4 linked regions of the Homo sapiens genome follow. The protein of the gene in region 2 interacts with the protein of the main gene of each other region in a pairwise test. Each region holds a gene or a part of one and is shown on either strand. Other genes may lie near its edges. The genes, in order: PPP1R12A, ATXN10, ZKSCAN5 and TLE1.

The links.
Region 1: the proteins of ATXN10 (region 2) and PPP1R12A interact in binary tests that used the Homo sapiens proteins (3 or more experiments, as listed by UniProt).
Region 3: the proteins of ATXN10 (region 2) and ZKSCAN5 interact in binary tests that used the Homo sapiens proteins (3 or more experiments, as listed by UniProt).
Region 4: the proteins of ATXN10 (region 2) and TLE1 interact in binary tests that used the Homo sapiens proteins (3 or more experiments, as listed by UniProt).

Annotation. Positions count from the first base shown.
Region 1 is NC_000012.12:79,932,091-79,939,717, reverse strand, and holds the start of PPP1R12A (protein phosphatase 1 regulatory subunit 12A), read left to right. Parts: upstream 1-4,620; 5' UTR 4,621-4,786; coding exon 4,787-5,023; intron 5,024-7,627. UniProt on the Homo sapiens protein: Key regulator of protein phosphatase 1C (PPP1C). Mediates binding to myosin. As part of the PPP1C complex, involved in dephosphorylation of PLK1. Capable of inhibiting HIF1AN-dependent suppression of HIF1A activity.
Region 2 is NC_000022.11:45,688,834-45,695,858, reverse strand, and holds part of ATXN10 (ataxin-10), read right to left. Parts: intron 6,148-7,025; coding exon 5,956-6,147; intron 2,864-5,955; coding exon 2,781-2,863; intron 1-2,780. UniProt on the Homo sapiens protein: May play a role in the regulation of cytokinesis. May play a role in signaling by stimulating protein glycosylation. Induces neuritogenesis by activating the Ras-MAP kinase pathway and is necessary for the survival of cerebellar neurons.
Region 3 is NC_000007.14:99,528,662-99,535,225, forward strand, and holds the end of ZKSCAN5 (zinc finger protein with KRAB and SCAN domains 5), read left to right. Parts: intron 1-2,446; coding exon 2,447-3,588; 3' UTR 3,589-6,039; downstream 6,040-6,564. UniProt on the Homo sapiens protein: May be involved in transcriptional regulation.
Region 4 is NC_000009.12:81,609,548-81,616,572, reverse strand, and holds part of TLE1 (transducin-like enhancer protein 1), read left to right. Parts: intron 1-438; coding exon 439-591; intron 592-3,051; coding exon 3,052-3,196; intron 3,197-4,179; coding exon of another isoform or gene 4,180-4,281; intron 4,282-4,613; coding exon 4,614-4,804; intron 4,805-6,276; coding exon 6,277-6,353; intron 6,354-7,025. UniProt on the Homo sapiens protein: Transcriptional corepressor that binds to a number of transcription factors. Inhibits NF-kappa-B-regulated gene expression. Inhibits the transcriptional activation mediated by FOXA2, and by CTNNB1 and TCF family members in Wnt signaling.

The sequences.
Region 1 (7,627 bases), on a different chromosome or scaffold from region 2:
ATGACTCTTATTTCTGAAATTCCTTCAGCACACAGATATTTTCATACAAATTGGCCTTCCTGCCAATGCCTTGCCTTGACACCTTGAGTTGGGGGTGCCACTAAGGCCTATCCTATAACCTTCACTTAATTAATCGTAATTATTATTACACATACTAATTAAAGTCAGTCAGTTTCCTAAAGTGTAGGACATGTAGACTGGTGGTACATGAGGTAATGTTATAAGGTAGATGTAACATTAAAACAACAGTGAAGCACTTAGCACAATATTCTTTTTTCACTACCTTTTAATCTTTCCGATTATGCTAAACTGAAAAATCTTAGGTTGATGCTCACATGTCCAACCCTTACCAATATCCCTTTTTTAACAAATTGAGAGCACAGCTTGGGCTCAGACCCTTGACAGACAACCTAACTAATGTTTTGTTTTCATTGTATTTGCTTTAACAGTCTTCTTTATGTCAAGTGGAAACGTTTTTCACTTACCAAAGCAACATAATGTTGCTTTAAAATAAATTTGTCTTAAAAAGGTTAAAGAAAACATTAAGCAAATACTAGTATTTGCGGTTCTTGAATTTGGCAATAAAACTGATAAAGTTTGGGAAACATTAATTCATATGAAAGGGGCATGTGATGTTCTGTCACATGATACAGGTTGGGAGTCATGTGCAATGGAGGTGAGTTATCTCTTTAGCAGTATAACTGCACTTTGGATTGTTGCCAGACACTCATCTGAGTCCTAGTTTTGGGGAACAAAAGAAGCTTTATGAGCATATTAGCCAGTACTTGTACTGTGATAGGGTTAGTTTCTTGAAATGGAGTCAGATGTGGCAGAAAATTTACCCTAAAGTAAATTAGAAACTCACCTTGTAATCCAGAGGCAAGGCAAAGATTAGATGCTATGATCTAGAAATCAGGATTGATCTAGCAATGGAGTCTGAAGCAAGTTAGGGTGGTTCCATGTTGGTTCTGGTCAACTCCCTGGGTAGGACTAAATAAATTATGATGTGAATGGATTGTAAACTTTTCTTCAAGTTCTTTTTTTTTTTCTTTTTGAGACAGAGTCTTGCTCTGTCACCCAGGCTGGAATGCAGTGGCACAATCTTGGCTCACTGCAACCTCCGCCTTCTGGTTCAAGTAATTCTCATGTATTCTCGGGTTCAGCCTCCCGAGTAGCTGAGATTACAGGCACGTGCCACCACGCCCAGCTAATTTTTGTATTTTTAGTAGAGACGGGGGTTTTGCCATGTTGGCCAGGCTGGTCTCGAACTACTAACCTCAGGTGATCTGCCCACGTGGGCCTCCCAAAGCCCTGGGATTACAGGCATGAGCCACCGTGCCCAGCCTTTTCTTCAGGTTCTTAAATAAAACATTGGAAAGAAATTATTATGCAATGGAAGAGAGTTTGGCCCAGGTGTAGAATACAGGAGACAGAAACAAGGTCCTTGTTGACTGTTCTATTCTCAAGTGTATAAATGTAAATTAGTATCTCAGGTTTAAATTAGGGATAAAGAGAACATAGATATATCAAAGTATTTATTAATATCTTATGTACATTTTTAACAAAGAGATTATAATAGCAGAAACAAATCTAAGCTGTGCATGTCAGCATTTCAAATATGTTTATAATTTAAATTAAGTTGATCATAATTAGCAAGCAAATTAATGGTAAGGAATGTCAGTAGTGTGATTAAACTTTGAAAAAGATATACACAGATCTCATTCTGACAATCTTGTGCATGTAATAAATAAAACCCCCAGCCAGGTACAGTGGCTCAAGCCTGTAATCCCAACACTTTAAGAAGCCAAGGCAGAGGATCACTTGAGCCCAGGAGTTTGAGACCAGCCTGGACAACATAGGTAGACCCCATCTTTACAAAACTTAAAAAATAAATTAGCTAAGCCTGGTGGTGCACGCGCCTGTAGTCTCAGCTACTTGGGAGGCTGAGATCATGCCTCTGCACTGCAGCCTGAGCGATAGAGTGAGACCCTGTCTCAGAAACAAAAACCTCCAATATGATTGATTTGGTGCAGCCAAAAATATATTTTTATATATACATATATGCAAATTAGTAAGTATAGTTTTATTTGTACTTCTATTTTAAGGCTTAATTTGCTTTAAAGGAGCTAAAATGTATCCTCACATCCCAATCTGTTTAGAAGCCATTAGGAAGTGAAAATATTTGCATTTTTTCCATTTGTTCTGCTTAGACAAATATGTAATAAAAGCATGTGTGTGTGTGTGTGTGTCTTTTTTTTTTTTTTTTGGTAAAGATAGGGTCTAGCTCTGTCGCTCAGGTTGTAGTGCAGAGAGCTCACTGCAGCCTCGAACTCCTGGGCAGAGTTCGCCTCAGCCTCTCAAAGTGATAGGATTACAGGTGTGAGCCACTGTGCTGGGACTGTGTGTGTCAATAAAAAATTTTGCTTGTTCTAGAATTAACCCAAGGTCTTCAGTACCATTAATTCACTAACAACAATTTAAAAAAAATCCTCCCTAAAGACAAAGTAGGTGGCAGTTTCAGAGTACTTTCAATATTAACATAGAGCATCTTGACCCTTAGAGCCACGAAAGAAGAAAAACTAAATTCAGTGAAATTTGCACATGATAGCAGCCCTCCTTGGTTGTTTTTTCCCTGACAGCTTCTGGGAACTGAATGAACTTAATTATGTTTTATTAATAAACTATTATTAATTTTGCATCCTGAAATAAGTGCTTGAATCAGGAATAGCATACTTCCCACTAAATTCCTTTTGCCTGAATGAAATCTTCAGATTCCCATCTATACTGCAAGGGCACTTTAAGAGCTACCACATAGGCCATAACGTTCTTGGAAAACAGGATATGCTGTCAGTTGCCTAGGTAGAGACAGGAGCTGACAAGGCAATCCTCAAGTTCCTTTCTTTTATTCTGAGAGCTGTATTCTGTGGATAGGGATTTTGTATTTTAGTGCTAACAATGTTTTTCAGTACCTAACACCATGAGTATTCAAAGGTCTGATGTTATCTTTAATGTATGTAATGAACATACAATGGTATATCTTATGAATATTACATTCATTTTCTATTCCTACAACGTTTTCAGAGGAAATATTTTTACCCTGACCTGGATTCTATCGCTATCCTAATAACTGTGGTTCAGAAAATTGTCTCACAGGCAGACAGTTTCCTAATCACGTTTTACTCAATTATTTTATTTCTCAATATGATAGGCTGTGAAGTAGTCCACTGGAAAAGGCATCATGCTGAGAGTAAGAAAAGCTTATTTGTTCACTGCTCTATCTCCAGCACCTAGAACAATGCCTGACCCAGAACAGGTGCATAGTATTTGCTGAGTGAATTCTAATCCTACTTCTGGGTAAAATTAAGTAAATTAATTAGTTCTTGAGGGACTCTGTCTAGATGACCCCTAAACTTCCATGGTAAGGTTTTGTGGTTTTTATCTTGGCTTTTCTAAATGCTCTAAAAATAGTAGTGGATGGTAACAATGCAGTGTTCAGTAAAATCAATTGGTGGAGATTGTAGATAGATGGCTCATAAGACATCAGTATTACAAATCCTATGTGTGTGCGCGTGTGGTCATACAAGGCAAAGTTAAAGTCTTTTTTTTATGACGATGATAAATTAGTCTTGTTTGGGCGACTGAACTCAAGAGGTGGTTCAAATAAATGTCATATTTTTCATTGTATCTTCAGTGCCTAGTACAGTTACTGGCTCATAGTAGGTATTCAATAAATAGTGGTTGAATTAATTGCCTTCCTTAACGTTCCGTTTAAATGCTAGACGCAGCTAGGTCTTTACCCCTCCTTAGAAAGAGATGGAGCTGTAACCAGAAATCCCTTAAAAGGTAAGGACCAGTAATCAGGCTGAGCTAAGCTCATGGGTAGTACGAGACAGGCTTAAAGCACTGAAGGAAGAAAGAAGAGAACCCAAGCGTGAGAGAAAGCAAAACAAAACAAGTAAAGAGAGGAAGAAAAACATTTCTAAAGTGGGGGTTGGCAGGAAGCCACAGCAATTACAGCAGGTCAACCCTTGTCAATAGGTGGTCACCTCAAGAACTTACCATTAAAACCCTCGGCCACACAGACCCCACTTTTAAAAGGTTATTAATTCTGACATGCCCAAGTTCATCTGAGTTCCTTAGAAAGATCAACCAGCAGCACCTACTTCACGACCTATCCTCCATTCCATTCAAATAACGCGGCCAATAGGAAAATCCTCCGCCCTGAGCCAACGACTCGGCGTAGCTGAGACAGCACGGGAGGCAGATCTGCCCTGTAGAGCCTTGCGGTTCCACTGCTGGCCTCCGGATTCCCGGGAGCCCCCAGCCCGACAGGACAACCTTCCTTCCCCGCTTCCTCCTTTCCAGGTCTGTCCCAGCCCCCGCTGCCTGGGCCACACCCGCTTCCCTCTGGTGGCCCAGCCACCACCGCCGCAGTTCGCGGGAGCGCTCTTCCTGGGGCGGGCACAGGCCCAGGGCGCATGCGCACTGGTCGAAGGGCGCCTCCCAGTCCGGATCTCGCGAAGTTACGTTAGATTGGCCGCCGGTGACGGGTGGCCGTGCTGGGGGCGGGAGGGCTTCTGTGGTAGGAAGGGAGGTCCGCTCGGCCGGGTGCGCCGCCCCAGTGCTCTGTGGGATACTGGAAGTCTCGAGCGTCGGCTCCGGGTTCCCAGCCCTCCTCTGGCCCGCACTCATAGAAACATTCACACACCCCCTGCCTCCCCTCTCTTCCCTCTCCGCCTCCCCCTTCCCCCCCTCGCGATAAGAAGACCCGGCGGCAGGAGAGGGGATGAAGATGGCGGACGCGAAGCAGAAGCGGAACGAGCAGCTGAAACGCTGGATCGGCTCCGAGACGGACCTCGAGCCTCCGGTGGTGAAGCGCCAGAAGACCAAGGTGAAGTTCGACGATGGCGCCGTCTTCCTGGCTGCTTGCTCCAGCGGCGACACGGACGAGGTCCTCAAGCTGCTGCACCGCGGCGCCGACATCAATTACGCCAATGTGGACGGACTCACTGCCCTGCACCAGGTCTGTGCGCCCCGCCGCCGGCTCTCCTGACCGTGAGGGTTCTCGTCGGCCTCCTGCTCGGGCCTGCCCTCAGTTCTCCACCTCTTGAGGCTGGGGGCGGCGGGAGACTCCCTGCTGCGGGGTGAGGGGGCGGTTTCCCCAGAGGGCGGGAGGGAGAGCTGGTGGAAGGGAGGGCGCTGGGCTTGAGGCCCCCCTTCAGAACAGTTGCTGGTGGAGTTGGGAACCGGGTGATTTCCGGGGCATAGGGGAAAAGGAACTGTGGTCGTTTGGGGCCCCAGGGCCATTCGTGGATAAGTCTGGGATTTGGGGTCGAGACAAGGAGGGGTGTAGTGGGGTTGTGCCTGGGCCCCGGTGTCAGTGGTATATTCGGAGGGGTGGATGCTGAAGGAAGAAAACTAACAAGGGGCATTACGGACGGTTAGGCAGATGAACATCTTTGACTTGTAGGTGGGCATTGGATTTGTTGCACTTTTTAGGACTTGATTACAAATGATGATAATAATAGTAATCTAGAGCCCTAAGCCGAGTGCCCTGAACGAACGATTTCCTGTTTTCTCATTTATTACTCTTGGTCACTGGGGAGGGGAAAACAGGGTGTAATTAGCTGATCTGCACCGGCTGAAAGGAAGGGGATGGAAGTGGGTAGAGTAAGGAAGCCCTCTAAAGGGCTTGCCCACCTCCGGACCGGAACGTGTTGAGTCTGATACTCGAAGTTTGCCGCAGTGTCAGAGATCCTTGAGCCCCAGGTCCTCGGGTGTGCACTGGTGTTAGAAAGAGAAGAATAAATAGGGGACACTCTTTTCAAAGCCGGTTACCAAGCTCTGGTTTTTCTTTTGGGGTTGGGAAAAAAGAAAGCTGGTCACAAACTTTTCTCAAAATGGATGCTTTGTGCATATTAAAGTTTTATAGTAGTCTGATTGGGATCTCTCAATGTTAGCCAAATAAGGAGAAACTATTGGCAATCCAGAGATAATGTTGCCTTGCCTTTAACAGGCCAAAAGCAACACAACCACGTAGAGTTATGCATAAAAAGCAATTTTTAAGTGACGGTAATAGGTGACAAAACATAGGCTTTTTCTATTTTCTTAGCGGGCAACTTGGAATAACTGTAATAGAAAATGACTTTGCAGCGATAGCTTCCCCTTAACAATGAAAAGACTTGTAAGCTATCTCAAAGTTGCCTTGGTTGTGTGTGGAAGATGCATAGCCTTATTTTGAATAATGTTGTAGTAAAAACTTGTTTGGGAGGTTGAAACTCAAGGCTTTATATTTCATGAATATTAACTTGATGCCTTTTAAAAAAAAGGTGTGTAGTGACATTTTTCCTTGTCCTGCTTACTGTTTAAGGGAGTGATGACCATTTTAAATTTTGTGTAATGGAATTCTCTTATCAGACTTGGAGTATAGCCTTTGTTTACAAAGTTGACTGGATATATTGAAATGATTGACACATTGCAGGACAAATATGGAATTAAAAATGTGGCACCCAGTAAAAATATAGCAGGGTGTCTAGCGCTTTCTCAATTTCATTAATTTAGATTCTCTAATGCATAGCAAACTTTTTATTTGGGTGAAGTTTATTTAAGGCATATCATAACTCGTAAAATTTTAAAACCATGGTGTTGAGAATGAAGGAAACTTTTGGCATTAAAAATGATAATGTAATTATATAAGATGAATCTTCAAATTTCTTTCAAGTGTACTTTACACGTTTTAGTGTGAAACAGATTTTGAAAGACGATTATTACTGTAGGAGGTCAGGATAATTGGATAATGGTTCGCATCAATATGTTTTATTCAAATTGTCAAATAGAAATTTAAAGTTACTATTGTTGTGGAGGAACCCAGTTGTATTGGCTTAGAGGAAGACGAAAAGTTTTGATATTTACATTATTGTGATACTGGTTTAGGGAGGAAGAGAAAATACATTTAACTGCCTTCTTAAGATCTTTTTTTCTCCTCTCAATATTCACACGTTACAAGAATTGTCAGACTTACCAATGTCTTCCTGATTAACTGAATTCAGTGGTCAGTTTGGTGTTGTGTAGATATATCTTTATTGGGTATTTTGTTTTAGTTGACAAACAGAAGTTTCTAAATTTACTCCATTTGCGTAATATCTTTCTGTCACTTTTTGTCACTGTGAGTGTGGGTTTGACCCGATAATCTCCAACCGCCTCCCCTTTTCCATAACATTTTTCCATATCTGCAAATGCCTTAAATCGGTGAAGCCAAAGTCTTTAAAATATCAAGCATTAAAAATTTGTGTTATGTTTTCTTCACTCTCATTTCTTATTTATCAACTCTTGTACTTTTTTCCCATTGTTACTATGAAAACAGGGAGTTCACTTTGGGCAAATTTAGGACAACAGTTAGTGAAAGACAATAAATAAAATTAAAAACCACACACACACAAGAAAATTTTAAGCCTTTAAGAAATCTCTTGAACTTAGCTTGTTTTCCATACTTAATTGTAAAAACTAAAATCACTGATTTAATAGTCCTTGAATAGTTCTTTAAAACTTTAACCTCTCAAAAGATCGTAGAATACCTAAAATGTATAACGGGGTTAATTGTTGATTGTTTTTTGAATATTCATTTACT
Region 2 (7,025 bases):
CCTCTAGTTCTTGTCTATCTACCAAGAGAAGCACACATATTAACATCAATAGAAATATGCCTCACGTGGCCAGGTGCGGTGGTTCATGCCTGTAATCCCAGCACTTTGAGAGGCCGAGGTGGGTAGATTATGAGGTCAGGAGTTCAAGACCTGCCTGGCCAAGGTGAAACCCCATCTCTAATAAAAAAATACAAAAAATCAGCCGAGTGCGGCGGCAGGCGCCTGTAATCCCAGCTACTCGGGAGGCTGAGGCAGGAGAATCGCTTGAACCCGGCGGGAAGGCGGTGGTTGCAGCGAGCCAATATCGCACCACTGCACTCCAGCCTGGGCGACAGAGTAAGACTCCATCTCAAAAAAAAAAAAAGAAATATGCCTCATGTTATATGCAAAGTACAGGCATTAAAACTGTATATAAAACAATTTGTAAGTCAAATAATATTTTAAATGCAACTGGAGACTTCTCATTTAAAGGTTATATTCATTGAATTATAAGGTAAAGACGTTATTACAATGACAATTTTTTTTTTTTTTTTTGAGGTGGAGTCTCGCTCTGTCGCCCAGGCTGGAGTTCAGTGGCGGCAATCTCGGCTCACTGCAAGCTCTGCCTCCTGGGTGCATGCCATTCTCCTGCCTCAGCCTCCCCAGTAGCTGGGACTACAGGTGCCCACCACCATGCCCGGCTAATTTTTTGTATTTTTACTAGAGACGGGGTTTCACCGTGTTAGCCAGGTAGATCTCCTGACCTCGTGATCCGCCCACTTCAGCCTCCCAAAGTGCTGGGATTACAGGCGTGAGCCACTGCGCCCAGCCAACAACAACAAAATTTAACCTATAATTTAGTACATCTAACTTATCCACCTGGAAATTTACATTAAAATTTTCTGGGGTTTTGTTTTTTTTTTTTTTTTTTTTTTTTTTGAGACAGAGTCTTGCTCTGTCACCCAGGCTGGAGTGCAGCGGCGTGATCTCAGCTCACTGCAACTTCCACCTCCCAGGCTCAAGCAATCTTCCTACCTCAGCCTCCAAGTAGCTGCGACTACAGGCGTGTGCCACCATGCCCGGTTCTTTTTTTTTTCGAGACAGAATTTCACTCTTGTCACCCAGGCTGGAGTGCAATGGCACGATCTCGGCTCACTACAACCTCCATCTCCTAGGTTCAATCAACTCTCCTGCCTCAGCCTCCTGAGTAGCTGGGATCACAAGCATGCGCCATCACACCCAGCTAATTTTTGTATTTTTAGTAGAGAGGGGGTTTCACCATGTTGGCCAGGCTGGTCTTGAACTCCTGACCTCAAATGATCCGCCCGCCTCAGCCTCCCAAAGTGCTGGGATTACAGGCTTGAGCCACTGCACCCAGCCTTTGTATTTTTTTGGAAACGGGGTTTCACCATGTTACCCAGGCTGGTCTCAAACACCTGAGCTCAAGCAATCTGTCCACCTTGGCCTCTCCAAGTGCTAGAATTACAGGCATGAGCCACGGCACCCAGCCTACATTAAGATTTTTTTATCAAATAATTTAGGTTTACCCATAAAGTATTTCAATTCCTGGCACAAAGAGATCATAAATTAAAAATCTACGTTTTTTTTTTAAACATTATGTTAAGATAATAACCACTGTCCAAAGGAAAGATGTTGATGCTAGAAGAACAAAGACCAAAACCATTCTACTAATGAGTCTAAAGAAGTGTGGTGTTTCTCTTAATCCCAAGTCAACAACCGTTAACAATCAGAGCTAAGTTCCATTTTCATCACACTAGATACTTGACTTAGACACTTAACATGTGGTTCCCCTCAACGGAATGTGAGTTCTCTAAGGACAGACACTTTTTGTCTGTTTTGGTCACTGTTTGAATCACACCCAAAACCTGGACCAGGGCCTGTCACATTCATAAATATTAAAAGTCTTACCACAGACTGAATGGCTTAAACAACAGACATTTATTTTTACACAGTTCTGGTGGCTGGAGGTCCAAGATCAAGGTGTCGAGAGGGCTGATTTCTTCTGAGGTCTCGCTCCTTGGCCTGTAGATGGTCATCTTCTCCCTGTGTCTTCACATGGTCTCTACTCTGAGCATGGCCATGTCCTAATTTCCTCTTCCTATAAGGATACCAGTCATATACCCTCATTTTACCTTAATTACCTCTTTAAAGATCCTATCTCCAAATTCAGTCACATTCTGGGTATTGGGGGTTAGGACCATGCTATGATCTGAATATCTGTGCCCCTCCGAAATTCCTATGCTGAAATCTAATCCCCAACTTGCTAGTATAAGATGGGGCCTTTGGGAAGTGACTAGGTCATGATGGTGCAGCCCTCGTGAATGGGATTAGTGCCCTTATAAAAGGGGCCCAGAGAGCTTGTTTATGCCTTCTGCCTTCCACCTTCCACCACAGGAGAACAAAGCAAGAGGCACCATCTATGAAGACGAGAGCAGCCCCCGCAAAACACCCAATCTGCTGGTACCTTAATCTTGGACTTTCCAGCCTCCAGAACTGTAAGCAATACATTTCTGTTGTTTATAAACTACCCAGCCTAAGGCATTTTGTTATAGCAACTGGAACAGACAGACTTCAACATACAAATGTGAAAGGAACAAAATTCAGCCATTCAGGAAGGGAAGTTGATACAACTTTATAATTCTTTAATAATTCACTATTAAAGTTTCCCTATCTCATGAAATACAGAACATGTGTTTCAATGAATGATGTTAATACTCAAAGTACTGGTTTTGAACCCTTTATAAAGATATAAATAATCCATGAATTATATTGCATGCTACCTGTCAACAGAGATTCCTGTTCCACTCGCAGTTCACGAAACAGAAGAATCAAATCAACAGCAACACCAATCGTATCCAAGTTCCTGGGTTTTTTAAAAAAGACAAAATTAGACATGTTCATTCATTCATATATTGTCTATGGCTGTTTTTGCACTACAATGGGAGAGCTGAGAAATCTGACAGAGATTACAAAGCCTAAATTATTTATTATCTGGCTCTTTACAGGAAAAATATAGCAACCCTAGCAGTAGAGGTTATATTTACATGCAGAGCTAACTGCTTCCAACAGCTTTCTTTGAGTACTTCCTGAAGTTTCCCATGACTCAGATTCTTTGCTTTATTGTATTTTACCCCATTCCATGCATTCTTGGCAAAAACAGTCCCAGTCCACACAAAGTGCAAAAGATGTAAAAAGATCTAGGCTTTAATAGCATCACACCTTTTGATGAACTCTTTAACGACTTAAAGTAAAACATCAGAAAAATATGTACTAGTTGCAATCTGAATCTTGACTGGCTCAGAAATACTGGCCTTAGTTAAGCTTGGCCACAAAGTCTTTACTAGAATCTTTGTAGTATTTCTAACTAGAAAATTCTTTTCTGAAAATTGCTGCCCTAAATGGTTGAAATTTTCCTTTAAAAATCAACAGTGAATAATAATACAATCCTAGAAGGGAAGAGGCAGAAAAATTAACACCCTTAAATGTTCATTTTCATTTCCGCCCAACCATAAGTTGCATGCAATAAAAAGATATCACAAACAGCACAGCCCTTGCTTTGCTGGCCCTACCAAAAGACCACCGATAACTTACTTGTCATAGTATTTATTTTTGTAATGTTAGAATTTTTATAGTTTGCATATATTACTCAAAAAAGAAAATAAAAATTGACTGCTTTGAAAGAAAGTATTAACATAAACTTGTGTTGTACATTCATTCCTGAGGCAGAGGCAGAAACATTTAATGTTTACTGAGCACACAATGTGCATTAGGCATTTACATAAGTAATCTCATTTACACCCCATAACCAGCCTGTTTGGAAGACATTGCTTACCTAGTTTTACAGAGGACAAAACTGATACTCAGGAAGACCAAGTCACCTGTCCAGGGTCAAGATGGAGCAGTCATCCACAACAAGACCAGTGTGTAAGGCTCAGGACAGCAAGGGTAGACTGCATTTTTTTTTTTGAGACGGAGTCTCACTCTGTTGCCCAGGCTGAAGTGCAGTAGCCCAATCTTGGCTCACTGCAACCTCCGCTTTCCCCGTTCAAGTGATTCTCCTGCCTCAGCCTCCAGAGTAGCTGGGACTACAGGTGTGTGCCACCACACCCAGCTAATTTTTTATTTTTAGTAGAGACAGGGTTTCACCATGCTGGCCAGGCTGGTCTCGAACTCCTGACCTCATGATTCACCCGCCTCGGCCTCCCAAAGTGTTGGGATTACAGGCGTGAGCCACCGCGCCTGGCCCAGACTGCTTTTGAGCTTAAGCTCAGAACAGTAAGGGCAGACTGCTTGTTAAGCTTAAGCTTTAGAGTCAGATGTCTGGATATGGAGAGAATGTTCCCAGCCTCTCTCACTTAACAAGTGACTCTCAGACAAGTTATTTAACCTCTCCAAGTTACAGTTTCATCTTTTGTAAAAATGAAAAAATTTCTTGAGTTTGTTCTAAGAATTAAAGAAGATACTACAAGCAAAACCCTTGGGACAAAGCCCAATGCCGAAGGCAGGCTCAACGAATGCTCACTCCCTTCCCCACCAAGATTAGCCAAGCACAAAGGTGTATCTGCCAGCCACAGTCAAAAGTTAGTTCTACGGCTCTCCTTTCCTTCCCCATCACACTAGAGCACCTTGTGACTGGAAAAGGACAAAAGAAACTAGCCTTCTGGCCAGATGCTTCTAGCATATAACTAGTTATGTTTTAGAATGTAGACTATTATTATCAAGATTATTGTTGTTTCTATCCATTTATCCTCAAATGGATGGCAGGTTTGGTTTAGTATTGAAGTTACACGACTCACTTTTTACCCTCTCTCCTTTGATCTTAAAAATCTCATTAATCATATCAAAGCCTCGGGTATATGTGTCTAACCGAAGGGAGTCCCTCAAGTGGCTTCTGGACCAGCCCAAGCTTACCCGTCACAGTGGTGACAGGGAAGCCTGGAGGCTCTGTCTACATCCAAGTCCAGGAAGGAAAGTGAGCATCCTGTTTGTGGCTTCTGACTTCAAGTAAAAATTTTTAATAAAAAGCAGGTTCCACAAAATCAAAGAAGAAAGATGCTGTGTTCTGGGAGGAGACGGTAACACGTAAAAGCAAAGAAGAGCACTGGACAGCTCGCCTGCTCATGTTTTAACTACTTTTAAAAATGTGCGCATCATAAAATAGGTGGAAGCAGAGCTTGGAACTTTACATGATCTTTAGGAAAGACAGGTCATCTTGTAAATTTACAAAATATGCTTCTTGTCCAAACACAAGAGTAACAAATTAAAACATTAAAAGTAATTAAAACATTTACAACCTGAGGTCAAGAACTGCATATAAACTTAGGCAGGTAAAATCTAGGAACAAAGACTCAAAATCAGCTTCAAAACACTATGAAGAACCAAATACCTCAAAACATGTGATAAAAACAAACAAGAAATCTAACCCCTAATGTTAAACACACTCCATTATTTTATACACTAGTCAGAGAGACTCCAATGGCAAGGCCTGTAGAGGGCCTCTCCCAGCAGATGTAAAGGGCAATCCTGCAATAACAGTGGGTGATACTATCATGCCAGAACAACTTTTTTTTTTTTTTTTTCCCTGAGACAGGGTCTCACAATGTGGCCCAGCCTGCAGCAATGGCATCATCTCAGATTACTGCAACCTCTGCCTCTCCCTGGCCCAAGCAATCCTCCCACCTCAGTCTCCTGAGCAGTTGGGACTACAGGTGTGCGCCACCATGTCCAGCTAATTTTTTGTATTTTTTTTGTAGAGACAGGGTCTCACCATGTTGCCCAGGCCGGTCTTGAACTCCTGGACTCAAGCAATCCTCCTGCCTCAGCCTCCCAAAATGCTGGGATTACAGGCATGAGCCACCTTACCCAGCCCAAAACAACTTCTAACAGATAAACCAAATGACAGAACCAGCATGCACATATACAAAGAAACAGAATCCAAGGTACGTGTGTAACTACCTGATTGAATTCTGGTTCACAGAACACTCTATGCAAGCATTGCGAAGACACCTGAAGCATTCTGTTATTAACTGCAGACTGGAAGCCAGGTTTTCCACTTGGGATGGATCTCTGCAGGCAAGCTCAACAGCATGAGAAGATTTCTTTAGGATATCCAGAACTCTTTGGAAGATAGTCCTGGGTGCTGTTTCTCTGAAAAAGGATAAAATTATCACGAATCAGAAAAAAAAGATTATGATTTCCAAATGTCCTATTCAGAAAACTGCTTTTATCTACTATTGTGGGGAGGTACGCTACGTTTATCTGCTTTAGCTCCTTAATTTACAACACCAAATAAAAGATCTACACATATTGAGCACTTACTATGCACCAGACACTGTTCTTGTCACTTCTCATGTATTATCTCAGTCTCTGCAACAGCCTTATGAGGCCAACACTGTCCTCTCCATTTACAGATAAGGTAAGTGAAGTAGAGATGGTAAGTAACTTGCACAAATCACTCAGCCAGTAACTGGCAGAGACACAAGGCCAAGTGAAGCACTCTGGCCTGAGCACTTCCACTACCCATGACAACCCAAATCCCAGTTCCAGTGACTGCTCATGCTTATGGATCTACCCTGAATCAGAACAGAGTATCTTTATTTAATGTTCTAGACAGAGAATATATTCTGGTCCTCTGTCACCCAATATGTAGCTAAGTTCAGTTATAAGAAACAATATTCCTGTAGGACAAGGATACTATCTACTCTGTAGACACAGTGAGGCTGACAACACACACACCAAACTTCTACAGTCAACTACATAGATGGGAGAGAAAGGAGAGGGGGAGAATGTAAAGTGTGCCTGTTCTTCCACCAAGAATGTATGCCCAGGGAGAAAGATGAACCTGTGGTTGTACCCTCTGGGCATCTCAGTCTCTGCGTGCCTCTCATGCCAGGAGTACTGCCTGCACTGGCTATCATTCCAGAGCTCTAAAGATAAGAATTTTTTGTGCAACATTGCACCTAAATGCAAGCCAACTTCCTCATTCCATAAATCCCCTAAAGAAACAGCAAATCTCTTTTAACGTT
Region 3 (6,564 bases), on a different chromosome or scaffold from region 2:
AGCGATCCTCCAGCCTTGGCCTCCACAAGTGCTAGGAGTTACAGGTGTGAGCCACCATGCCCGGTCCTCCCTCATTTTTCTGGATCAAAGGGGGAATACATGTTTTGCACATCCAGCCATATTATTGAGAGTCTGTGTTGCTAGTTGCACAGGATCTGCAGTGACCAGAACAGAGATACAGTCCATGCTCTCATGCAGCCGATGGTCTGGTGGGGGTAGCAGATAGTAAAGGTGATGAGCATTCCCAAAGGAGAAGGATGACATGCCGGGGGAGGAAAACTGAGGCTAGAATGTTGGCTAAGGGTGAAGGGGGCAGGGATTGCTGTATCACCCACCCTCTGACAATGCTTCTTGTTGGCTCATTTTGCCTTATTTCCTGACTCCTAGTCAGATATTCCCTGACTGCATACCCTCTTCATCATCCTTCACTCTCATTCTTCCAGTTTTTGTCAGTTCTCACCACCCAGTTATGTATTTGTTTTTTGTTTTTCTTTTTTGAGATGGAGTCTCACTCTGTCACCCAGGCTGGAGTGCAGTGATGTGATCTCAACTCACTGCAGCTTCTGCCTCCTGGGTTCAGGCGATTCTTCTGCCTCAGCCTCCCGAGTAGCTGGGACTACAGGCACCTACCACGATCCCTTGCTAATTTTTGTATGTTTAGTAGAGATGAGGTTTTACCATGTTGGTCAGGCTGGTCTTGAACTCCTGACCTCAGGTGATCCACCTGCCTCAGCCTCCCAAAGTGCTGGGATTATAGGCACGAGTCACCACACCCAGCCTGCTACATTTTCTTTATCAACTCATTGCTCAACGGGCACTTAGATTGGCTCCATATCTTTGCAGTTGTGAATTGTGCTGCAGAAGACAGGCGCTTACAGTCTTTTTGGTATATTGTCTTTTCCTTTGTGTAGATATACCCAGTTGTGGAATTGCTGGATCAAATGGCAGATCTACTTCTGGTTCTTGAAGAAGTCTCCATACTGTTATCCACAGAAGTTGTATTAATTTATCTCTCACCAGCAATGTATAAGCGTTCCCTTTTCACCACATCCATGCCAACATCTATTGTTTTTTGACTTCTTTGTTTTTTTTGAGATGGAGTCTCGCTGTGTTGCCCAGGCTGGAGTGCAGTGGCGCAATCTTGGCTCACTGCAACCTCTGCCTCTTGGGTTCAAGCAATTCTCTGCCTCAGCCTCTGGAGTAGCTGTGATTACAGGGCACCCACCACCATGCCCAGCTAATTTTTGTATTTTTAGTAGAGATGGGGTTTCACTGTCTTGGTCAGGCTGGTCTTGAATTCCTGACCTCGTGATCCACCCACCTCGGCTTCCCAAAGTTCTGGGATTACAGGCGTGAGCCACCTGCACCCGGCCTTTTTTTTTTTTTTTTTTTGAGATGGAGTCTTGCTGTTGCCCAGGCTGGAGTGCAATGGCGCAGTCTCGGCTCACTGCAACCTCAGCCTCCTGGGTTCAAGCGATTCTCCTGCCTCAGCCTCCTGAGTAGCTGGGATTACAGGCGCCCGCCACCATGCCCAGCTAATTTTTGTATTTTTAGTAGAGATGTGGGTTTCACCATGTTGGCCAGGCTGGTTTCGAACTCCTGACCTCAGGTGATCTGCCCGCCTCGGCCTCCCATAGTGCTGGGATTACAGGTGTGAGCCACCACGCCCGGCCTTTTGACTTCTTAATAATGGCCATTCTTGCAGGAGTAAGGCAGTACCTTATTGTGGCTTTAATTTGCACCTTCCTGATGATTAGTGATGTTCAGCATTTTTTTCATGTTTGTTGGTCATTTGTATATATTATTTTGAGAACTGTCTCCATGTCATTTGCCTACTTTTTGATGGGATTTTTTTTTTCTTGTTGACTTGTTAGAGTTACTTGTAGATTCTGGATATTAGTCCTTTGTCTGATGCATAGTTTGCAAATATTTTCTGCCATCCTGTGGATGAGTCTTGCTCTTTTCGTCAGAAAATTCCAAAAGTTTGTTGTTTACATTCCTGTTGGCATCAAGTACACACACACATCCACCTCTGTTACTCCCGTTACATCATAGTTTCATCTGATGAACATTTTTTATGACAGTTTATTTTTCCTTTATAAAAGAACTGATGGGCCAGGCACGGTGGCTTAAACCTGTAATCCCAGCACTTTGGGAGGCTGAGGCGGGTGGATCACCCAAAGTCAGGAGTTTGAGACCAGCCTGGCCAACATGGCAAAACCCCATCTCTACTAAACATACAAAAATTAGCTGGGTGTGGTCATGCACGCCTGTAGTCTCAGCTACTTGAGAGGCTGAGGCAGGAGAATCACTTGAACCCAGGAGGCAGAGGTTGCAGTGAGCCGAGATCGCATCATTGCACTCTAGCCTGGGCGACAGAGCAAGACCCCATCTCAAAAAAAAAAAAGAACTGATGACATTTTCACTTGCTCTTTATTTTTTTTAGGCAGTGACAAAAGAAGTAAGAACACAAAATTAAGTGTTAAGAAGAAAATTTCAGAATATTCAGAAGCAGACATGGAACTATCTGGAAAAACCCAAAGAAATGTTTCTCAAGTTCAAGATTTTGGAGAAGGCTGTGAGTTTCAAGGCAAGCTGGATAGAAAGCAGGGAATTCCCATGAAAGAGATACTAGGACAACCATCTTCAAAGAGGATGAACTACAGTGAAGTCCCATATGTCCACAAAAAATCCTCCACTGGAGAGAGACCACATAAATGTAACGAGTGTGGGAAAAGCTTCATTCAGAGTGCACATCTTATTCAACATCAAAGAATACACACTGGGGAGAAACCATTCAGGTGTGAGGAATGTGGGAAAAGCTACAACCAACGCGTGCACCTAACTCAGCATCAGCGCGTCCACACAGGTGAGAAGCCCTACACCTGTCCCTTATGTGGGAAAGCCTTCAGAGTGAGGTCCCACCTTGTTCAGCATCAGAGCGTGCACAGTGGGGAGAGACCCTTCAAGTGTAACGAATGTGGGAAAGGCTTTGGGAGGCGTTCCCACCTGGCTGGACATCTTCGACTCCACTCCCGAGAGAAATCCCATCAGTGTCGTGAATGTGGGGAAATCTTTTTTCAGTACGTTAGCCTAATTGAACATCAGGTGCTCCACATGGGTCAGAAAAATGAAAAAAATGGCATCTGTGAGGAAGCATATAGTTGGAACTTGACAGTGATTGAAGACAAGAAGATTGAGTTACAAGAGCAGCCTTATCAGTGTGATATCTGTGGAAAAGCCTTTGGTTATAGCTCAGACCTCATTCAGCATTACAGAACTCATACAGCAGAGAAGCCCTATCAATGTGATATATGTAGAGAAAATGTTGGCCAGTGTTCCCACACCAAACAACATCAAAAAATCTACTCCAGCACAAAATCCCATCAATGTCATGAATGTGGCAGAGGCTTCACTCTGAAGTCACATCTTAATCAACATCAGAGAATCCATACTGGTGAGAAACCTTTTCAATGTAAAGAATGTGGAATGAATTTCAGCTGGAGTTGTAGCCTCTTTAAACACCTGAGAAGCCATGAGAGGACAGATCCCATAAATACCTTAAGTGTAGAGGGGTCTCTGTTGTAGAATAGCTCTTAATTTTAGAGAAACCTTCCTGGAGGGAAACCATACTCCTATAATGAGCAAAGTAACAACTTCAAGCATTTTTCCAGCGTTACCATCAAACTCACAAATAGGTTGAAATCCTTTAGTTATAACTCAGCCTTTAGGAACACCGGAGAACCCACAATAATAGAAATCTTTTCGTGTTCCCCATTGAGAAATGCTTTAGTTAGCATCTTCATGCTTGGAAATCTAGACAAGAAGAGAATCCATGGATGGACATGGTCGAGGAATTCGGAAAGCCTGCAGTTGACATTCAGTCTTCACTTGAAACTCAAAACTGACACTAGGAACAGCTTCATGAGTTCAGTAGAAGTAAGCTTTATTTGTAGCTTCTGCCTTGTTTGACGGCGTATCTATTCAGGGAAGCGCACAGTAAAAGAATTCCTTAGCATGATGTCTGTTTTGGTACCTCAGCAATGAACCTTTTCTAGAAATTATTATTCCAACCACTAGAATACCCTAGTCACTATTCCCACTTTGAGCATTAACCCCTTTGAAAAGAAATGGACTTAAAGTATCTCTGTTTTGGCAAAATTCAGGTTCAGGGGCTGGATGGTATGTGTTTCTGCTGCCTTATTCAATCCACCACTTCTCTGTGAAACACTCTACCTTGTTTTTGGTTTGATTCTACTGATGTCAGGGTTTAGCCGGTAGAAGGAGTAGTTCAGTTTGTCAATTCAGGAGAAACTGTACTGGTCAGTCACATCTTACGGCGAAGGGAGAGGGACCTTAGGGGAGCAGAGAAGACAGGCAAAGTTGTGGACTGTTTGATCTTGTATTACCCACAGGAATGAGGGCAGCTAAACCCATAGAAGGAGTTGGACCAAGGCGAATTACGAGTCCTGGTCCCAGCAGTATGTGTGCTGACTTCTGGGTGCCCCAGAAATAGACCTCTCCTGTAGAGTGGTGATATACAGAATGAGTTTCAGTTTGCATTGCAGCTGGGATTGAAAGTAATCAGTCGTGAGCAGGCAGGCAGGAGGTCCTGTTAGCCCTGCCTTCCAGGAAGGTTGGGGTGGGAGTTTTGAGTGGGAAAGAGGATGACATGTGTGAGAGAGTTCTGAGCCTGTTTGCTAGGGAGAGTGAGTGAGTGCTCTTGGGCACTGCTCAGGCCGTTTCTGCTGACTTGCCTGGCTTACAATAAATGCCCAATAAATATTTGTTGACCATATGTGTTGTACACTGTGGTGCCCTGTCCAGTCCCCTCTACCAAGCTGAGACCCCCATCCCCAGCTGCTCTGAGTTTGGGCTGCAAGTGCTCACAGCTCTTGTTCTCCAGAAACTGGAGAATTGCCCTCAGGAGATGAGAGCCATCTCACCTCACCCAGGAGTCACTTCCTCTCTACACCCCAACACCTGGTTCATTTGATTAAAGCGGAGAAAACTCCAGGGTGCTATGACTGCTCTGGCACCCTTGGATCAGGCCAAGCTAGACTTTTTCTGAGCCTTCATCCGTGCTAAGCTCTCTCCCTTCTCTATCCTGTTTCATTCCCTCCCTCAAAGGCGTTTCCCAAATAAATCACACTGTCAATCACATGGTTCTGAATCCCTGTCTCAGGCTCTGCTTTAGAGAACCTGATCTAAGACATTTGGTGCCACAAGTGGTCATAGGAAGCTGCTGTGAGAGTGGATTGTGGAGTTGGTCACTCGCCAGGAGGGAGTGAAGACCCGCATCACTGTTAATAGTCCTGGCATGTGGTACCTGTCCAGTCACTAAGTCATTCACTTGTGGGGAACTGGGATGAGATACAGGTGGAAAGCGATCTATTGACTTGTAGAGGTTTGGGACAAACAGGAAAATAAAGATTATGGAATTGGGTGGCTCTTGCTGAAAGTCACTGAATCCTTGAAGAGAAGAAAATGACAGGGCAAATAACCACCAATTTAATGCCAAGTGTGTGTCAGAGGACCTTCTTGGTAGCTTTTTAATTTTTTTATAGACAGGGTCTTGCTCTGCTGCCCAGGCTAGAGTGCAGTGGTGCAATCACAGCTCACTGCAGCCTTGACCTCCCGGGCTCAAGTGGTCTAGCCACCTCAGCCTCCTGAATAGCTGGGACTACAGGCACATGCCACCATGAGTGGCTAATTTTTAAAAAACATACTTTAGCTGGGCGCGGTGGCTCATGCCTATAAACCCAGCACTTTGGGAGGCTGAGGCGGGCAGATCACGAGGTCAAGAGATCGAAACCATCCTGGCCAACCAACATGGTGAAACCCGGTCTCTACTTAAAATACAAAAATTAGCTGGGCATAGTGGCGCATGCCTATAGTCCCAGCTACTCCAGAGGCTGAGGCAGGAGAATCGCTTGAACCCGGGAGGCAGAGGTTGCAGTGAGCTGAGATCACGCCACTGCACTCTAGCCCAGTTGACAGAGCGACAGTGTCTAAAAAAAAAAAAAAAAAAAAAAAAAACATTTTTTGGAGAGATGGTATCTCCCTATGCTGCCCAGAGTGGTCTCGAACTCCTGGGCTCAAGTGATCCTCCAGCCTTGGCCTCCCAAATGTTGGGATTACAGGCATGAGCTACTGCACCTGGCCTTGGAGTGATTCTTGAAAGCTTAGAAAAGTCAGTGGCCCACATTAAATGACGTAGAGATGACAAAACCATGGCAGACTTAACAAAGGGATCCAAAGATTCATACATACACAAACTAGGATGGAACTAGAAGATAAGACCAAGCAACCCACCTTCAGTTATGTTCCTTAGGAGGGTCTGGAGAGCATTCTGTTTACCAAGGTTCCAAGGAATGCCCTGGTTGGGGGGCCATCAGCATCACTGAGAAGCTTGGTAGTGGCTATCCTGGTTTGCAGGGGCTGGTTATTATATAACATCACCCCAGACCATTCACATTACAGCCAGAGGTGCAGCAGTGGGCATGTGGCCATGGGGACCATTGTTTGTTTGTTTTTTGTTTTTTGAGACAGGGTCTCGCTTTG
Region 4 (7,025 bases), on a different chromosome or scaffold from region 2:
TGAAGGAAGTAGAGCCCCTCGGTGGGGGGACCTCTTGCAACTTCTTACATTAAGAAGTTAATGGTTGCTCATGTATGGAGCAATAATGGTCTAACTGACATAAAGTTTTATTTCCTTTAAAAAAAGATATTTCTCTAGACATTTTGAATGCCTAAGTTGGATGTTTGGCTCCCCTTTCCTTCCAGTGCCCTCTAGGCAAAGTTCTTAAGCATGAGGCACAAAGAGGGATATGACTGCGGGGTTTTTTTTTTATGGCATGTTTGCAGGTATGTTTGCCGACACCATATTGCTCATTTATAACATGGTGTTGGTCACCTTGTACAACCCCAACCCGAAGGACTTTCAGCTCTGTCCTTAAATTTAGAGAATGAGTGTGGAAAGGGAAAAGTCTGTCTGTTACAAGCTAAATCACGAAAACTTTTGATTATGCTTGTTGAGGACCCTTCTTCTCCGCGAGCAAGCCCTGCCCACTCGCCCCGGGAAAATGGAATCGACAAAAATCGCCTGCTAAAGAAGGATGCTTCTAGCAGTCCAGCTTCCACGGCCTCCTCGGCAAGTTCCACTTCTTTGAAATCCAAAGAAATGAGCTTGGTAGGTAAAGAAAACTGACACTTGCCTGTTTGGCAGTGTATTTTTCATTGTGGACTGGAGGACTCTGAAGTATTGGAAATGTGGGGGTTTTGCTGCTTGAGGGTTGTATTTTTAAGAGTTTAATAGTGAAACTCATCCTTCTGTTCTTTGTCACCATTCAGGGTTTACTTTTTCCCCTCAGTCATCTCTTTTCGGCCATGATTAGAGGGTGTACACGCATCTGTGTTCATTGCCTTCTTCTTCTTCTTCTTCTTTTTTTTTTTTTTTTTGAGACGGAGTCTCACTCCATCATCCAGGCTAGAGTGCAGTGGTGCAGTCTCAGCTCACTGCAGCCTCTGCCTCCTGGGTTCAAGCGATTCTCCTGCCTCTGCCCCCTGAGTAGCTGGGATTACAGGCGCGCGCGACCATGCCCAGCTAATTTTTTTTTTTTTTTTTTTGTATTTTTAGTAGAGATGGGGTTTTGCCATGTTTGTCAGGCTGGTCTTGAACTCCTGACCTCTTTGATCCACCCGCCTCAGCCTCCCAAAGTGTTGGGATTACAAGCCCAGCCTCATTGCCGTCTTACTTGGGGGATATGTTCTTGCCACACAGCTCTCTGAAACTTCCCAGTTGACAAATGGTTCAAACTTCTGAGATTCTTTTTTTTTTTTTCTGAGACGGAGTCTCACTCTGTTGCCCAGGCTGGAGTGCAGTGGCGTGATCTCGGCACACTGCAACCTCCACCTCCCAGGTTCAAACAATTCTCCTGCCTCAGCCTCCCCAGTAGCTGGGATTACAGGCACTCACCACCACGCCTGGTACCACCATACATTAGAGAGGGTGTACACGCATCCATGTTCATTGCCTTCTTCTTCTTCTTCTTTTTTTTTTTTTTTTTTTTTTTTTTTTTTTTTTTTTTTTGAGATGGAGTCTCACTCTGTCACCCAGGCTGGAGTGCAGTGGTGCAATCTTGGCTTATTACAGGGTTTCATGTTGGCCATGCTGGTCTTGAACTCCTGACCTCAGGCAATCTGCCTGCCTTGGCCTCCCAAAGTGCTGGGATTACAGGTGTGAGCCACCGCACCTGGCCTCAAACTTCCGAGATTCTTAAGTCTTCATTTTCTTAGGCTGGTCATTTACCTGGTAGACTGATCCTTAATATCGGGGCATGTCATAGAGCATGCCCCGATATTATGGAGCTCGTCAGATCAGTGATGCACAAAGGAGGCCCCAGGGGAAGCCAGGAACTGGTGCATCAGAACCCACTCATGTGGTCACTCATTCAATCAAACTTTGTAGACTGCATCATCTTTTAACAATAACATTTCATAACAACCCTTCAGTTAATCCTTACCTGGTCCCGGTAGGCATTATCCCATTTTACCGGTTGGGAGGGATGAATAACTTAACAAGGCTACACAGCCGTGGCTCATGATCCAAGGTCAGAAAGAGCTCTCTTTAGCCCGTGCTCTTTGCCACGCTGTAGTGGTTCTTGGACTGTGTTGTAAAGCACATGAAAGGTTGAAAGGCCAGAGAAGGTGCCCTGTAACCCTGTTACTGTCTGGTCTCCGAAAGGCCCCTTGCTGGTGTTCAGTCTCTGATCTGCACTGGTGGGTCCACTTTGGTTATGTAGGCAAGTGGGCAGTGACTCTTAACTCCAAAGTGTTGTTCTTTTTAGGCATATTGGTAAGGTTAGCCCTGGGGCTTTTGTCTCTGAGATACTGGCCCCACTCTCTCTCACCATTTGTCTCAATCCCAGGGCTACCTAAAAAGGAGACTTGAAAAGGGGTCTTCTGGCCTGGCGCGGTGGCTCAGGCCTGTAATCCCAGCACTTTGGGAGGCCAAGGCGGGTGGATCACGAGGTCAGGAGATCGAGACCATCCTGGCTAACATGGTGAAACCCCGTCTCCACTAAAAATACAAAAAAATTAGCTGGGCATGGTGGCGGGCACCTGTAGTCCCAGCTACTCAGGAGGCAGAGGCAGGAGAATGGCGTGAACCCGGGAGGCGGAGCTTGTAGTAGGCCGAGATTGCGCCACTGCACTCCAGCTTGGGTGACAGAGTGAGACTCCATCTCAAAAAAAAAAAAAAAAAAAGAAAAGAAAAGGGGTCTTCCTTGGACTTGGCGGCCAGGACATGTGTTTCTGAGTGCCTGGGAAATATTCTCTGGGTGGTCATCTTTCTAACTTGGCGTAGACCCAAAGTCCACAAGGCTGATGGAAAATACTTTTAAAATAAAATCTGCGGAGGAAGAAGTGTGATCATGTTCTGTGTCTCTAGCTCGAGTTTTAATTCTGGCAGGAAGAGGAAAGGTCAACATTTCTCGCTCACAAGTTAATGCTGTCAACATTGTGTGGATTTATGAAAATTGGCTGAGGGAGTAGCTAGAAGGTGCCCAGTGTCCCAGCTGCTGTTGTGATAAATTGTGTAATATGGCTTGGATTAAAAATAATACTCATTTAATTTGTTTAATGACACCAGCATGAAAAAGCCAGCACGCCTGTTCTGAAATCCAGCACACCAACGCCTCGGAGCGACATGCCAACGCCGGGCACCAGCGCCACTCCAGGCCTCCGTCCAGGTCTCGGCAAGCCTCCAGCCATAGACCCCCTCGTTAACCAAGCGGGTACAGCATCGCCTCTTGTTGTGCTTTGTTTGGTTTCTCCCATTCCCAGCTTGATTTGTTGTCTGTTAATGTTGTGACGCAATTGCCCTACAAATATGAAATGTACGTAGGGCCACCCTCCTTCCTATCTCTGAAAAAGCCATGATAAGAAACAGATGTTTGTCCTGGGGTTTCAGCAGCTGCACTCTGTTCAGTCTCCAACTGTTTACATTCAGCTTTTCTTTTTTTCTTGAGACGAAGTCTCGCTCTTGTCCCCCCAGGCTGGAATGCAATGGCGTGATCTCAGCTCACTGCAACCTCTGCCTCCTGGGCTTTGAGACGAAAGTCTTGCTCTTGTCCCCCCCAGGCTGGAATGCAATGGCGGGATCTCAGCTCACTGCAACCTCTGCCTCCTGGGTTCAAGCGATTCTCTTGCCTGAGCCTCCTAAAGAGCTGGGATTACAGGCGCCTGCCACCACGCCTGGCTAATTTTTGTATTTTTAGTAGAGACGGGGTTTCACCATGTTGGCCAGGCTGGTCTCAAACTCCTGACCTCAGGTGATCTGCCCATCTCGGCCTCCCAAAGTGCTGGGATTACAGGCGTGAGCTACCTTGCCCAGCCTTCTTTTAGTTTTAAATAATTCAAATCCTAGGGACTTCAGTAAAGTTTCTGATAATTATTTTGAACACAAGCCTCCCCACCTAACTAGCATTGTGCGTCTGACTTTGCTAATACTGGCTGAAACAGCGGTTTGGCTGGCCCAACCGTGCTCCTTGCAGACTATAGTTTGCTGGTTTTCTGCTAGGGGAGGCTTCAGGAATCAGTGGTCTCTCCTGCAGTAGAAATTAGGAGGGTTTCTCTGCGACTCCAGCCCTTAAAAAACTCATAATTTGCAACCTGATATTCCCCAGTGGGAAAGGAAAAAAGCAACAACCTGGGCCCAAAGGAAAATAGGCAACAGAATATTCCTCCTAAACCCGTGCTTTGGTTTACGTAAATCCAGGATTGGATTTTCATTTGGAATTGGTACCAGGGAATGGAAAGTTCGGACTGAAAGAGAAATCTTGGATTTTATCGAGAAAATCTTCTTTTGAGATTAAGTCAGGTAAACACTTGGTGCCTGTGCCTTGGTTTGCCCTCTGTAAATTGGGTAGGGAATACTCTTAATTCCCCTGGCTTCCTGGTGCTGCCATTTACACAAATGAGAAAATGTGTGGGTTGTGCTTCCCCTGGAGTCTTTTCTTTCCTGGAGATGCATTCGCTCTGGGGAAGGAGGGATCCAGTGTATAAATTGGAGGTGATTTTCCCCCTCCCCTAGAAGCCTTACCTCTTTCTCTCTCCCCATGAGTGACACTAACAAATGATGAGGCCAGACTTGCTGGTCAGGTTTGATGGAGTGGGTCAGTTGAATGATGTGCGGCTTGTGTTTCCTTTCAGCAGCTGGCTTGAGGACACCCCTGGCAGTGCCCGGCCCATATCCTGCTCCTTTTGGGATGGTCCCCCACGCTGGCATGAACGGCGAGCTGACCAGCCCAGGCGCTGCCTACGCCAGTTTACACAACATGTCGCCCCAGATGAGCGCCGCAGCCGCCGCGGCCGCCGTGGTGGCCTACGGGCGCTCCCCCATGGTAGGCCGCTGTCGGGTGGGCTGTGGTTGGGGTAGGAACGCTGCATGCTCCATTGAGCGCTGTCAGGTTTGGGGCCAGGCCTCTCTGCGCTGCGTGGGCAGGAGCAGCCAGCCCCACACACCTCGGAGACAAAGACGCCCAGTCTCCCAGCCACACACTCACCTTCCTCTTGTCAGCTTTCATCAGCATGCTGCTTCATTAAGTGAGGGCCAAACGTTTTTTGTTTTAGTGTTTTTGTGGATGAAAAAGGCAGTGTTTAGAAGCTCCTTCAGTGGTTCAGGGGACATCTGGTTTTCTCCCACCAAAGTCGATTTTTTTTATTTGAAGGCGATGAAATGATTCGAGTGGTTCACAGAAGCCTTTTCATTCATTTTCTTGAACTTTTTTTTTCTCATTAAACCTTAGGAAAAAATGTCTGAGAAGCCATCGCTTTCTCTTTCTATGCCTATGTTACACTTTAAACCCAATAGCATGACTTATATATAAGCAGTGGTCTCTGTAAACAGGTAGAATTCTGGACAGACTGAACCACGGGGGCAGGCTGTCTCTCGTCTGTTTGCCCTGCCTCTTGCCACTGTGCAAATGATCTAATTTTTGAACAAGAAGAAACAAAACTGCATTTGAAGGGTAGAATTGGCTCTGTGATCGTTGATTGCATTAAGGGTATAAAGTCCCACCGTCATTTCTCTTGGCTGTTTGAAAAATGTCCTCTACCTTTCTCTCTTGTCCCCTCTTCACATAGCATTACCTCCACTAGTTTGCGGTGACATTAAGATTCATTTGTTTTTCCTGATATTGCACTTGTAGGAGAGGCTGTGCAGTGGCGGGCAAAGTGTTGAAAGTAAGGTGGTCAGCTGAGAGACTACATGCTGTCCTTAACGCTGCACAAAGTAGGGAATCCATGTATGAATCCTTAAGCATTAAATTAGACCCATGTATGCAACTGGGGATGATTTTGTCCCTTGAGGACATTTGATAATATCTGGAGACACTTTTGATTATCATAACTGGGGGTGGGAGGGGGGGCAGGTATGGATTCCTCTTGGCACATAAACAGTAGGGGCCAGGAATGATATTCAGCATCCTGCAACGCCCAGGACGGCCCCTAACAAAGAAAAGAACTGTTTGGCCCCAAATGTCAATAGTGCTGAGGTTGAGAAATCCTAATACAACATACTGCTCTGTGAACTTGCTTGCAAGTCTAAGGGAAGTATTTACCATGGGGAAGTGGTTCTCAGTGCACAAATAGATCACATCTCCTCTCTACCTCCCAAAAAGGAAGTGGGTCTTGTGGCGTTCAGGGGTGCTTATATTACCTCTTGCATAGTAATTAAAAAGAAAAACACTAGGCCATGTTACTGTTCCCATTTATGTTGCTTTGGGGATCTGTGAGTTTCTAATGAACAGTATTGATGTTCACAAAGTGCCTGCTGCAATAAACTGAGTCTGCAATGCCTTATTTTTGTTTCCAGGTGGGGTTTGATCCTCCCCCTCACATGAGAGTACCTACCATTCCTCCAAACCTGGCAGGAATCCCTGGGGGGAAACCGTAAGTACCTCAAAGACCTTGGTTTTGTTTTAAAGGTGGTTACTCAGTCATTGGTATTAGCAGACTAGAATTCCAAAGGGAGTACAGGCTTGGGCGTTTCCAAGGAGATTTCTGGTGTCTTTTCCTGAGGAGTGTTAACACTTTCTATAAATAGGCAGCTTGTAGGTGTCATGCCTCTGTCTTCTCCCTGGGGGTGATCTCCTTAGTTATTTCTGGAGAGAAACTGTTGGAGATGAGGACGAGGTGGGAGGAAAGAGCTGGAGGTGGCTGGCCCTCTTCGCCTGACCCCTCAGAAAGCTGCTCTGCTCTGCTCTGCCATTTGGCTAGAGGGCAGCTGCTGGAGATTCCCAACAGTGCTGTGCTGTGGGCAGTCAGCTGTCACGAACTCTTGCAGGCTTAGACACTTTTTTGAAATGTGTCATCTCTTTACTCAGCTCTGTGCCACCTTTTTCTTATTTTGGTGGAAACAAGAGTTATTTGAAGGGTAGGTTGTGTTGGATGCCAGCACCCCAGGTTTACCCCCAAGTAAAGTTTTGATGAGTGCTCCAAGAGATCTAGAATTATAAAAAGCAAAGTGGCTTCGTGGGGAAGCAGGAAAAGTTAATGTTCATTTTGTGTCCAGTGCACAAAAGAATTGGAATTTAAAAAAACTCAATTGGCTATTCTTCCTGG